Regions from separate parts of the Homo sapiens genome. Here region 1 is linked to region 2. The links come from fine-mapping of genetic effects on gene expression. A gene starts in region 2. The other region holds a variant in brackets. All regions are shown on one strand. Distances are between the middles of the regions.

Region 1 (3,034 bases), 25 kb after region 2:
TGTCTTCTGGGAGCGACCTCTGTCAACCCACCTCTTGGATGGAGCCAGAAACGTTTTCACACTTCCTCGTCGGGGCAACGGAGCAGGGAGGAGAGTCACGGTGGAGCTCCTTACTGGTAACTCCATATCTAGAAGACAATTTGGGGTTATCAGCACAGTTCCAAATGTGCAGTTTTTAGTAAGTGCTTGTGTTTATTATAGACCACGTTCATTCTTTTCTATTTTTATTTTAAGTTCTGGGGTACATGTGCAGGATGTGCAGGTTTGCTACATAGGTAAACGTGTGCCATGGTGGTTTGCTGCTCCTATCAACCCGTCACGTAGGTATTAAACCCAGCATACATTAGGTCTTTTCCCTAATGCTTTACCACCACCACCACCCACACTCCCCTGACAGACCCCAGTGTGTGATGTTCCCCTCCCTGTGTCCACGGGTTCTCATTTTTCAGCTCCCACTTATGAGTGAGAACATGCAGTGTTTGGTTTTCTGCAGGCGTTAGTTTGCTGAGCATAAGGGCTTCTAGCTCCACCCATGTCCTTGCAAAGGTAGACCATGTTCATTCTTTATTTCACAACATCGTTGGTTTTTCAGATGTCTTGAGATGACAATGTATGATAAAAGGTAGAGCTAGTGAATTGGCCCATTTGTAAATGTTTTTATTATAATTAACACAAAAGAAGCCTCTTGAACGTGGTATTATGAAGCCACCTCTGAGCAGTGCACCCCAGGACTCATTAATTGGGTCAGCAACAGAGCGGCAGAAGGAGCATGAGGAAGGAACTATACAGACACATTGCTATTTCCATCTTGATGATAACCATTGATGTACGTGTGTATCTCTTTGGGGGTTACTATAAGAATACACTGCTAAATAACTCAGTGGACACATACCTTCTTGCTAACATTTTACTAGGACAGCTCTGATCATTCTCTTAGAAGGATTATATCCCATTGCTTTATACCCTATTTTAAATTGAGCATTAACGGAACACAGTATTTTAATTGTAACTCTGCCAACATCTTTATTCAGAGGACTGTTGCCATTTTTGTCTTTCAGGAAATTTTTGTCTCCATGAAAGGCAAAATTACATTTTTTTTCCTGATTGAAATGGTGTAGTGTATTCTTGGTTATCAAAATACTCTTGGCTTTGGGACTTTAAATTGATAAATATTCATTGTGTGTGAAAATATGATACATATTGTGTGATCTCAACAACATAACAATATGCATTCAATTATGTGTGTATACACACACAAGGACTTAGAAGAGCAAGGTCACATGTAATCTGCTTGTGATTACAGGTGACTTCTGAGTTCTGTCTTCCACGTGCTCTTCATTTTCAATAAGCACATGTTATTAACTTTGAAAGTTTGAGTGCTTACATTTTATTTTTAAAAATTGTATGCCAGGCTGGGCGCAGTGGTTCACACCTGTAATCTCAGCACTTTGGGAGGCCAAGGGAGACAGATTGCTTGGGTCCAGGAGTTTGAGACCAGCCTGGGCAACATAGCAAAATCCCGTCTTTACTAAAAATACAAAAAATTAGCAGTTGTGGTGGCCGGCGCCTGTAACCCCAGCTACTCGGGAGGCTGAGGTGGGAGAATCACCTGAGCCTGGGAGGCGAAGGCTATAGTGAGTCAAGATTGCACCACTGCACTCCAGCCTGGGTGTCAGAGGGAGATCCTGTTTCAATTTAAAAAAATTATATGCCAACAC[T/C]TGTATGCATCTGTATATACCTATGTATGTATTTATGGGAAGAGGTAATAGCTTTATAAACAAAACTCGAAGAAGTTGTGAGCCCTAAGTTAAGATCCACTGCTCTACTTCCAATGCTCTCTTCTTTTTTTTTTTCCTTTAAATTGTGGTAAAATATATATAACATAAAATTTGGCATTTAACCATTTTTAAGTCTATAGTTCAGAGGCATTAAATACACATTAACAGCTGGGCGCAGTGGCTCATGCCTGTAACCCTAACACTTCTGGAGGCCGAGGTGGGTGGATCATTTGAGGTCGGGAGTTCGAGACCAGCCTGGCCAACATGGCAAAACCCCGTGTCCACTAAAAATACAAAAAGTATTAGCTGGTCGTGGTGGCGGGTGCCTGTAATCCCAGCTACTCAGGAGGCTGAGGCAGGCAAACCACCCAAACCCGGGAGGCAGAGGTTGCAGTGAGCCGAGATCACGCCACTGCACTCCAGCCTGAGCGACAGAGCAAGACACAGTCTCAAAACAAAACAAAACACATTAACTTTGTTGTGCAACCATCAACACCATCCATCTCCAAAACTCTTTTCCTGTTGTAAAACTGAAAGTCTATACCCACTACAGAATTTCACCGTAAGTATTAACCCCCTATTACTCCCCAGCTTGGCCCTGGTAACCACCATACTACCTTCTGTCTCTATGAATTTGACTACTCTGGGAATCTAATGTAAATAGAATCATATGGTGTCTGTCGTTTGTATCTAGCTTATTCCACTCAGCGTCATGTCATCAAGGTTCGTCCATGTTGTAGCATGTGTCAGAATTTCATTCTTAGTTAAAGCTGAATAATATTCCATTGTATGGGCAGACCACATTTTGTTTATCCCTTTGTCTATCCATGGACACTGGGTTGTTTCCACCTTTTGGCTATTATGAATAACACATCTATAAATGTGGGTGTACAAGTGCCTTGGGTTGTTTCTACCTTTTGGCTCTTGTGATTAATGCTGCTATGAACACTGGTGTTCATGTCCCTGCTCTCAATACTTTGGGGTATATGCCCAGAAGTAGAATGGCGGAATCACGCGGTAGTCCTCTGTTTCATTTTTAAGGAACCACCATCCCATTTTCCACAGAAGCTGCAGCATCTCACCTTCCTACCAGCAATGCACATGGGTTTCGATTTCTCTACATCTCGGCCAATACATGCTCTTTTCTGGTTTTTTGATAACAGTCATTGGCTTCGGTGTGAAGTGATACTGATGGTCTTTTCATCGTATTGGAGAGGCACGGAGTGAACAATTCTGACCTGAAATCCTCATCTCTC
Region 2 (2,500 bases):
CTTCTCTGTCTCCTCCTCCCTCCTCCCATTCCTTGGTTAACTCTTAGTCATCCATCATCACAGCTGCAAAGTCACTTCCCTAGGGAAGCTGTCCCTTTTTGCAGGCTGGTCAGCTTCCTCGGATCTAAGCTGTTAAAAGTTCTGTGTATTTTCCCTTCTCTACACTTACCATAGTTGACATTTTATTTTTGCTCTGGGATTATTTGGTTAATGTGCTAGAATCAAAACTCCAGAAGGGCCAGAACACTATGGCTTTTTTTGTTATCACTATGTTCCCAGCACTCAGCAAAAGAAAAATAAAAAACCAGACCCTCATTGTCACCTAATGGTGGTACTGTAATTCTCTCATTCCTTCCAAATGTATCAGCTGAATTTTTCAATAAAGAAGACATTTCCCTTATCAGCTCTTCCGTAACTGTGAGGTACAGTTTATACAAGAAAAGCAGAATAAATGCTTGAATTTTCCCCTTCTATTTACCAGTTTTCAGAATAATCAGAGGTGACAGACTCCTCCAAAGGTAACAAATGAGTTTGGTTTTACCGTTTTGAGTATTATGAATTCATGGATGTATACATGTTGATGTGTTTCAGTCCACTAAAGTCATTATTCTTTGGGATGCTCAAATTGTCTCATTGTTGGCCAGTAGAAGCCTGGGCCCTTTTGCCATGACCTCAGTTGTCTTTAATAGCTGTCCGGCTTGTATGACAAGACATTCTTGGATCCCCTTGTACAGCTCCTGACACCAATCTGGTTCAGCTATTTCTTCAAGAAGGCCTGGTTCCTTGTACATTCTTATTCACCTGTGGTTTCAATTCCCTAGTCTCTAAAAGAAACACTACAAATAGAAATTCTGTTCTGATTTTTCTCCTGTACAGCGGACCTGTATACCTAACAGATGACTGGGCATTGCCATCTCTGCCCACAACACACATCCTGAATTTGACTTGTTTGCACATGAAGTCATCATCCCTCCCCAAGATGGGCTCTCTATTATGCCTTCCTTGGGGATCAGTACTTGGAGTCGGGTCAGGGCAAGATACTGTTAGTGACATGTGGAATTCAGCCACACCATCATGAGAAGGTCCTCTCTGTGTGTTCTGGCTAAACCAGCCTTCTACCAGGTTAGCACGATTCTGGGCTTTGCAACATTCATGACCTGTTTGAGGGCACTGAAGGAGATGCTCAGCCACATCCCTTAATTTGCATGAGCCTGTAGGAAAAATATGTTTAAGAAGTCTGGCTGTCTGAGCAGGCCAAAGGAGAAGATGGAAGAGAAGGTGGTTTCCTGAAAGCATGAAGCTGTATCTGTTCATATTTTGACACCATCCCAGGAAGAAGAGGCTGAGGTAGGAAAGTACAGTCAGCTCTGGGAGTTCCCTCTGGAGAAGCTGGCTATGAGACGTGGAAGAAGCTCCCCAGCTGCAGTAGAAGGCACGAGAAGGTTTCAGGCTTTCCAGGTGGGCGTAGAATGGGCAGCAGCACAGGCATAACCTGGAGTGGCACAGGTGCCAGGGAAGAGGGCAGACGCCATGCGTGACATAGCAAGGGGATCACACCGCATCCATTGTGCATGAGACCACTTTTCACCACCCAGGCGACTCAAGGAGATAACTGGATGGGTGGTTCCAGGAAAAGAATGGACATCCTGCTAGGCCATCATATGCTGTCTCAGAGCACTGAGGTTTGATAAATGTGGTGAATTTGGAGGCACTCACAGCTGAGTCCCAGCACAGAGTGGGCACATAAGCAACACCATTTTCTCATTGCCCAAGCCAGCCCCTGCCCACAGCACCTCCACTTCCCAGAGCCACACCCAATCAATGGCCAACTTATGATTCTAATCTTGAATGTCTGTCGAGATCTTTTCCTTCTCCATCACTAAGCTCTCTCCTTTAAGTAAAAATTTTTCTCCTGGAGGAATGCCTCCTGGCTGATGCTTCTGCAAATCACCTCACTTCTCTTCAAGCCCTCCTCTGTTACAGACTATTCCAAATTTTTTTTTGTTTTTTTGTTTTTTTGTTTTTAACTTTTGCCTACCTTGTCGGCTCACGCCTGTAATCCCAGCACTTTGGGAAGCCGAGGTGGGTGGATCACCTGAGGTCAGGGGCTCTAGACCAGCCTGGCCAACATGGTGAAACCCTAGCTCTACTAAAAATTCAAAAATAAGCCGGGTGTGGTGGTGGGTGCCCGTAATCCCAGCTACTCAGGAGGCTGAGGCAGGAGAATCGCTTGAACCCAGGAGGCGGAGGTTGCAGTGAGCCAAGATCGAGCCACCGCACTCCAGCCTGGGTGACAGAGTGAAACTCCATCTTAAAAAAAAAAAAAAAAAATGCCTACCTAAATCTAACGTAAAACTTTGAGCTCACTCTGAAATATATTCATATTTACTTACAAGGGGAAAATGCCCTATGAACTGAAAATTATGTGTATTTTAGAACATACACAAAAGAGAAGTTAAAAGAAAATGAGAAAAATAAATAGATGTGATAATACTTTATT

Evidence for each region.
Region 1: its variant is fine-mapped to the expression of LINC02656 in whole blood (TOPMed, PIP above 0.99).

Annotation. Positions count from the first base shown.
Region 1 is chr10:6,323,640-6,326,673 of GRCh38, reverse strand. LINC02649 (long intergenic non-protein coding RNA 2649) reads right to left here and starts at 130. Exons shown (of 6, transcript NR_040079.2): 1 at 32-130. It also overlaps a transcript of PFKFB3 not described here. The variant T/C (reference allele first, on the strand shown) is at 1,719.
Region 2 is chr10:6,349,135-6,351,634 of GRCh38, reverse strand. It overlaps LINC02656 (long intergenic non-protein coding RNA 2656), which reads right to left and starts at 1,319. Exons shown (of 1, transcript NR_148966.1): 1 at 1-1,319.